Homo sapiens: one gene and its partner. The protein of the gene in region 2 purifies or fractionates together with the protein of the main gene of each other region. This does not show direct contact. Each region holds a gene or a part of one and is shown on either strand. Other genes may lie near its edges. The genes, in order: CDC42BPG and POU1F1.

The links.
Region 1: the proteins of POU1F1 (region 2) and CDC42BPG purify together in Homo sapiens (affinity purification with mass spectrometry; one large-scale study listed by BioGRID and IntAct). This does not show direct contact.

The regions. Positions count from the first base shown.
Region 1 is NC_000011.10:64,841,815-64,846,156, forward strand, and holds the start of CDC42BPG (serine/threonine-protein kinase MRCK gamma), read right to left. Parts: upstream 2,840-4,342; 5' UTR 2,756-2,839; coding exon 2,596-2,755; intron 2,270-2,595; exon of another isoform or gene 2,102-2,269; intron 91-2,101; coding exon 1-90. UniProt on the Homo sapiens protein: May act as a downstream effector of CDC42 in cytoskeletal reorganization. Contributes to the actomyosin contractility required for cell invasion, through the regulation of MYPT1 and thus MLC2 phosphorylation.
Region 2 is NC_000003.12:87,259,553-87,263,366, forward strand, and holds part of POU1F1 (pituitary-specific positive transcription factor 1), read right to left. Parts: intron 2,684-3,814; coding exon 2,519-2,683; intron 1,782-2,518; coding exon 1,721-1,781; intron 553-1,720; coding exon 342-552; 3' UTR 1-341. UniProt on the Homo sapiens protein: Transcription factor involved in the specification of the lactotrope, somatotrope, and thyrotrope phenotypes in the developing anterior pituitary. Specifically binds to the consensus sequence 5'-TAAAT-3'. Activates growth hormone and prolactin genes.

The DNA of each region.
Region 1 (4,342 bases), on a different chromosome or scaffold from region 2:
CCCCAAAGGCTCCTCGGCCGATCACCTTCAAGATCTCAAAGTCATCTCTCTGCAGACGCAGTTCTTTCACCTTTGATACGAAGGGGCTGGCTGAGGGGACACAGGGCGGGACTCAGAGTGCAGGGAGGGAGGGCTCCATTCCCCCTCTCACCTTGGGCAAGCCAGGAGCTGCCGCTCCTGTGAGCCCAGGCAGGGATGACCTCCCCAGGGACAGCCTCGGGCCAAGGGGTTGTGGCAGGAACTGGTGCTCCTTTGGCCATGATCAGGAAGTGCGGAAGGTCAGAGGCCGGGCTCAGCTGACCGCCTGGTCCCTGGACCTCCCTGGACCCCTGGCCCCAGACTCTAGGCAGCCTCCATCCCAGGGGCTGATGGGACTTGTAGTCCTGCCCAGTCTGCGGCCTGACTCTGCTTGGCCAGGTCACCCTGGGGACCATGGGGACACCATTCCTACCCCCACCTCACAGTTCTTGGCCCCCTCACAGGTTCAGGCCAGGGCCTGTCTTAGGAAACTGGACGGGTGACATTCCTTATCCCCAGAGAGGCTTCTCTCCCATTCAGGAGCTGTGGGCCTGGGTCCCGGGACCCTGTAGGCATAGAGGTGCCTGGTTGGGGGTGAGGCCTGCAGCCCCTAGGGCAGGGAGGACAGGCTCTATGCTTCCCACGTGGGGCCCCTCAGGCTGGAGGCATGGATGCCAGTCTGCCAAGGTGCTGAGACTCACAAACAGGACAAAGATGCCTTTCCCTGGTGCTAGCACTAGCCCCTGAAGGCGTGAGTGCTCAGGATGCCTCCAGGCCTGACCGGCTCTCTCACTCCCAGCCCTGCCTCCCTGTCTGGACGAAGCTTTTGTCTGGTCAAGAACGTCCTCTTTCCTCACATCCCAGATACCTCCAGGAAGGGCAACTCCAGCCACTCCCAGGCACTTTCCAGGCCTGGATTAGCCCCAGGTTTTGGGAAGGAATTGGGTCTTAGGGAGGCAGGAGTGATCAGTCAGGATGGGGGGCAGCTGTGGTCTGGCGCCCTGCCTCAGTTTCCCCCTGCCAGGAGGTAAACTCCCTGCCAGCTGGGCGGGTCTGTGGGTGGGACAGAGAGCTGTTCCACAGGTTTATCAGGCAGAAGCCCGCAGCGGGGGCGGGGTGGAAACCTCATTACAGAAATTCATTGTCTCTTTCCCAGGTCTGTGTGTGGAGCTGGGGAGGAGCAGCCCCGGGCCTCCCCGTGGGAGTTGAAGCCAGCACCATAGGGACCCACCCGCCAGAAGAGGGCCGAAGCCCAGGCCCACAGGCAGGAGGATCCAGGCCCCTGGACAGGCTGCCTAATCCTCTGGCCTCCCACAGGGCATGGGGGCTCCGGGCAGGAGCAGGGACAAGTAGAGACAAGCAGGAGAGGAATGAGTCACAGCCCTTTGAGTTACCTTGGGAGATTGTCAACAGAGGGCCCCCATGCCGGGGTCCCAGGCAGAGGTGCTGGAGGCAGTCAGGGAGGAGCACACATGTGTGTGCAAACACACACACGTGTGTGGGTGTCATGGGGGGGGTGACAACAACACAGGCAGACAGGCATAGCACGGAGGCATACCAGGGAGACAGGCACAGAGGCAGGGGCCTCTGACTGCCTCGCCCTGGATGGAAGGGTTGGGGCTAGGGGACAACTCCCTGGCACATCTAGGTGGCAGCCTCCCCCTCTACCCCAGGCCTTGTGCCTTCCCAGAGCTCAGGAGTGCCAGGAACGCTAGTTGCCCACTGGGCAAACACCTGCCTCACCCCGCCCTGGCCAGGCCCCCGTGCCTTTTCCCCATGGCCCGGCAGGGTGTGACCAGGGAACCCTCCAGCTGGCGCCAGTGCCCACAGTGGGTTCAGGGTCACCCCGGGCCAGCCACTCCCAATGACTCAGATGAGTCTACCAGGAAAGGTACAGACCCATCTCCAGCTAGGCCCCCCTCCCCGGCCCCGGCGCCACAGCCCCCAAGGAGCTTGGCCAGCAGCCTGCACAGGCCAAGGGTTGGAGATCGGTTCCTGAGTCCAGGCTGCAGTGGTCTTGTACCCAGGGAGCTGGGGGTGTGTGTGTTGGTGGGGGGAAGGTCTGCAAGTGTGCGATACCTACAGATCTGTGTGTTTTGCAGTGCCAATGCGGTCGGGGTGGTCTGCAGCGCTCCCTGGGTCTCTCCATGAGTTGTGTGTCTCAATGCATCCGAGAGGAAGGAGAAACAGAGCCCGTGTATCAGTGGGTGACATGCATGAGGGTCTGTGTGTGTCCTGCGTCAGGTGTGGCCTGTAAGCAAGGAAATCTGTAAGGGACTCTAGGCGGTGCACTGGGTACATGCGTCTGCGGTCGATACCTGAGCACAAGTTGGTATGTGTGTGCATGTGTCGGGGTCTGTGAGAGGGAGAGAGCGTGTGTGAGAATTGGAGTGAGGGTGAGGTGTGCAGGCGAGTGTGCGGGCCGCGGGGGTCCGGTGGTACGCGTCAGGGCCACTGCAGGGAGTCTGCGAGGGAAGCCCGTGGGGGTGCGGGTCCCTGCGGGAAAGTCTGCGGGTGCGGGGGTCTCGGCGCGATATCCCTAGGCCCGCCCCCGCTCCGTGCCGCCCCGCCACTCACCCCAGCTCAGGAACTGCGCCACGCTGCGCTCCCGCCGTAGGGGGCCGCTGCTGAGCTCGTGGTGCAGCGCCAGCAGCAGATCTAGGAGGCCGTCGAGCCCCGGGCAGCCGCCGGCCTCGCCCCGCGCCAGCTGCTCCAGCGCGCGCAGCCGCCGCTCCATGGCTGCGGCCGGAGCCTCGCTGCTCGGCTACAGTCTGGCCGCCCGCATGCCCGCCTGTCGGGCCGTCCGTCCGCCCAACCGTCTGAGGCTCTGTCCGCGCGTCCTCCCCCGCCCCTCTCCCGCCCTCCCCGCTGTCACCTTCCTCCGCCGCCGCCAGCGCGCCCTCACCTGGGCGCCGCGCCCCGCCCCCCGACGGACGGGCAGGTGCGCGCCGGCCAATGGGAGCCGCGGCTAGAGGTGAAGGTGGGGGCGGAGGCGCGCGGGGGCGGGCCCAACTCCCGGCCAGGAAGTGCGGGGGCGGGCCGGGGAGAACAACTGACTTCTGCGCGGGGCGCGGTGGGGTTCTGCGGGGTCGGAAAGACTCCCCAGATCCCCGCGCGGCCCCAGACCCAGACTTACCTGGGCCCTCCCTGGGCCCTGACCCAGGAGGCGCGGAGCACTGCAACTTCTCTCGCCCCCTGGGTCGCAGCCGCCTTGCCCTTGGCTAAGAGAGAGGGGCTAGGGACGCCCGCGGCCCCGGAGCCGGATGGGAATTGTAGTTCGCTCTCTCCATGGTTTGCCCGCGCTTGGCACCCATCGCCCCCCCGCCCCCGCCCAAAAAAAAGTTTCTGAATCTTACTTTGATTGTATCATTAGAGTTGATGTGGGAGACAGGAAGTTGGGGTAGGGATGGTCACGCCCATTTGGCAGATGGACACACTGAGGCTTGGGAAGGAGGAAGGCGAATTGAGGGGCTGAGGACAAGGTGGCTCTTAAGTTAGACCCTGGGGTGGAGGTGGAGCTGGGCTGGTACCAACACCACAGGCGTTTTAAGCTTCAGTAGGAGCAGGGCCTGAGGTCTGACCTGGAACGTGAAGGGCAAGGAGAGGTCTGAGATAGGCTGGAGGAGGTTGGGGAGGGGAGGGGCTGGCTCTGTCCAGTGGTATTTCTGATTTCTGTCCAGCTGGGATGGACCAGGCACCATGAGGAGAGATCAAAGGGTGGGACATATTGGTGGCTTCAGACAACACTTTTTTTTTTTTTTTTTTGAGACAGGGTCTCTCTGTCACCCATGCTGGAGTGCAGTGATGCAATCATAACTCACTGCAGCCTTGACCTCTTAGGCTCCTGCCTCAGCCTCTTGAGTAGCTGGGATTACAGGCAGATGCCACCACACCCAGCTGATTTTTTATTTTACTTTTTGGAGTCAAGGGTTATTGTTATGTTGACCAGGCTGGTCTCGAACTCCTGGGCTCAGGTAATCCTCCCACCTTGGCCTCCCGGAGTTCTGGGATTACAGACATGGGCAACTACACCCGGCCTAGACAACACTTCTTTCTCTTTTTTGAGACAGGGTCTCACTCTGTCCCCTAGGCTGGAGTGCAGTGGTGCAATCGTAGCTCACCACAGCCTCAACCTCCTGGGTTCAAGTGATCCTCCCACCTCAGCCTCCCGAATAGCTGAGACTACAGGCTCACACCACTAGGCCAGGCTGATGTTTTGTTTTTTGAGATGGTGTCTCACGCTGTCACCCAGGCCAGAGTGCAGTGGCACGATCTCGGCTCACTGCAACCTCTGCCTCCCAGGTTCAAGAGAGTCTCCTGCCTC
Region 2 (3,814 bases):
AGCTAATATACATGTTTGGAAAAGGAACTTATAAACCCATACTCATATGTCTGCGTGTGTGTGAGAAAGAGAGCGGGAGAGACAGAGAGATCATTTTATTACTGTTAATATATTTGGCTTAAAATAGATAATGTGGCTTCTGAGAATAATTATTTTAAGTAAATAACATCAATATAATTTAAATTGTTGGTTTCTTTTTTTTAAAAAAAAGTGGAAAAGTAAAGCTTCTGTAAAAGCTATTGATATAAAATGATTTTAAGTCAACCAAGTAATTTCTGTTTTTGTTGAGGAAGAGAAAGGAATGAAACGGGAGAAAAAGGCTATTATACAATAGAAAAATCTTATCTGCACTCAAGATGTTCCTTAGAAATAGAAAATAAACTCTGATTCAGACTTGTTTTCACCCGTTTTTCTCTCTGCCTCCGGTTGCAAAACCAAACTCTTACTACTTCTTTCTCCAGATTCAGTTCTTCAGCCATCCTCATGATCTCTTGAGAAGAAGGTTTATTCTGTTCTCCAAAGTGTCTCTCCAGAGCATCTTTAGCAGCAATGCTGGCGGGGGGTGGACATAGGGGGTGAAATTTTGTTGTTTTTAGTGAAGTTTTTGGCAGCTCAAAATTAAGGTAGGTTGAATTTCCTCAATATTAACATGAAAAGGAAACTTAAAAACTCTGAACACACTTGCAGGACACTTTAACAAGGACAAATGTATAATGTGTTAAATATGTAGATATTTTGTCTTATGTAAGGTAGAGTTACACGAGAGTCACGGAAAGCATTAAGTAGGGGACCCAGACTTTCTATGTTTTTCCCACTTTGTGCCACCAGAGGGCACTGAGTTCTTGAGAAGAAAATGAACATTTTCCTAGACATTTCTAAATATCTCCCCAAAATCATTTAGGGCTGTTTACGATAAAGGAAATCTCTAGTAAACAACTGACCAACCAAAACAAAACCTGTCTTTTAGTATTTGCTAAGCATGTCTCACAGAAACTACAAAAAGATCAATGAACAATCTTTCTGGGTTGAAATGCAAGAGGTCATGTTGAACTTGAAGAGACCGAAACACTGATTACTAGTGTCACATTTTTAAATACTATAGACACCATGGATACTACATTGTCAGAGCAATAAGTTATAGCTAAAAGGGGAGAAGATATGGCCAGTCTCTTAGAAATGATTGTTTTCTTTCTGTTTGTATTCAAAATTTTGGAGTAAAAGTGTTCTTGAATCAAACAATACATAATTTTCCATCAAATGTTGAAAATTATTAGCTCTCCATTTCTCAAAATTAAGTTATTACATTATTATTATTTTTTTTTTATTTATTTATTTATTTATTTATTTATTTATTTATTTATTTATTTATTTATTTTGAGACGGTGTCTCGCTCTGTCGCCCAAGCTGGAGTGCAGTGGCGCAAGCTCGGATCACTGCAACCTCCGCCTCCCAGGTTCAAGCCATTCTCCTGCCTCAGTCTCCTGAGTAGCTGGGATTATAGGCACCCACCACCATGCCCGGCTAAATTTTGTATTTTTAGTAGAAACAGAGTTTCACCATGTTGGCCAGACTGGTCTCGAGCTCCTGACCTCAGGCCCGCCTTGGCCTCCCAATTCACCTTACATTTATATGTTATGTTACACCTGCATTACACTCAAATGCTCATTCCATTTATAAAATACCAGTTTTGTCCTCTAGTAACTTTTAATATAAAGAATACCTTATAGTTGTTCTTCGTTTTCTTTTCCTTTCATTTGCTCCCACTTTTTCATTGTACAAAGCTATAATGTGGAAAAGAGAGATAATTACAAACACAAAGTAGACTTTTTATAAAAAACGATCTGATTTGGATTTCAAATTTTCTTCATAAAACAATGCAAAATAAAAATGCTAGACATTTTTGTCTTAAATTTTTGCAGTCTTTTTCTATTACAGACCTTAGAGAAAAATCTCAACGCAGAAATAAATATTAACCTTGCAAAGACACTTTCTACAAATAATATCCTCACTTTACTTTTGTTGGAATGCTTGCTGTAAATACTCTCAAACCTCACTCTTTATCAGGCTCTGACATTTGTATGAGTAGATAATTTTAGCTCATTAAGTTGCATATCTAGCAATTGCTTATATTATTTTCTTGGAAGACTGGTGTGTGCAAATGTTTTGTGTACACTAATATTAGGATACAAATGTGATTCATATATAATTTCTCTAGTATAAAAGAGAGGAAAAAAATGGATGTGTAAAAAAATAAGTATTTTACCCCTTCATGCTGATGCCAACAAGCTTTCCTTATATAGGTTATTCTATCCTCAATAAATTTATTTCCACACTTACATTGCCCTTCCTTTTTTGTTGTTTGTTTTAGTGTGATATAACAAAATGTTTATTTTTCATCTCAAAGAGAAAAGGCGGAAAAAAACCCCTCAAACCTCCTGCTTTAGCATTAATCCTACTTATTGAAGCCATTATTTTTAGGTTAAAACACAGCACAGCCTTCAGAGACACAATTTAGTACCTCCTACTTGCTCAGCTTCCTCCAGCCATTTGGATAATATTGCTTTCAGTTTGCATGCATTTTTAAAGCTGAGCTGCAGATTTTCAAATCGGCAGATTGTTGTTTGACTGAATTCAGAGCCATGCACAGCTGCCAGGGCCTCCCCAACATTTGTCTGGGTGTATCCTGTGAAGGGACAATAAAGACCATCAGCTCCAACTTTCCAGGAAATGTTAATTTTGGTTCATTGTCACACAAATCTGTGTATCTTTGTCAACTATTACACACTATTTTTTAACTATATATTCTTGGCAAATCAGAATTATTTAGTAAGATTCATTATACTTTGAAGTACTTGTGCAATACTTCAAAACATATTTCTTCTAGTTAATAAATTACTTTTATCTAGTCACTGAAAGAATTCAGATAGAAACATCTGCCATTCATAATATTTAACCAGTGTTTAGGTGTGTCCTAAACACTTCATAAGGCACTTGAAAATTATGGCTTTTTTATCATTATTGTTAGTTATCAAATAATATATGCTCAAAAAATTTTAATATATTAACTATAATGCATAAAATATACGGTTATATATCATAACATTCTTATTTCAACTCTAAAAGATTCAATGATATTGTTGAAGGGTACTAAATAAAACTAAGAATTATGTCACTTTCCCTAAAACCATATTTATTAAGAGGCTATGATTACACATTTCATGTATACTTCTGAGCCCATTTTATAGTTTTTGATAATGCCTCTGTCTTCAGACTAATGATCCTTATTGTTTGTCGCAAACATTTTTAGAGTACAGCTGAAATAACATATAATTTGAAACATTCACAGTAATATAGATAGAAAACTGAAAATGAATTTCACAAAGATTCCTACTACTGTGCTTATCACATGTAATAGCTACATATTATTTCAGGACCTAAGGCTATATACCTATATGTATAAAATGGTTGCATATGATGCCCATCAATAAATATTCTTATTACATTATCTATTGTTCATTCTGCAAGTGCAGAGGTTTGAACTATTATTTCAATCCATTAAAAAAATACACAATTTTATGCAATTTAACCAAAGTCAATTGTTATAGTTGTTTTATTTTAAAAACACTTCAGTAGAAAATGAGCAAAGGCTCTGAACAGATAGTTCACAGAAAAGGAAATATAAATGATTGTCAAGCATATTAAATAATATACTTTACACTCATAATAAAAGAAATTTTAAATGAAAAAACAGTGAGATGTCACTTTGACCTGTCTGATTTGCAAAGATCTAAAAGATTAACAGCATATTTTTTCT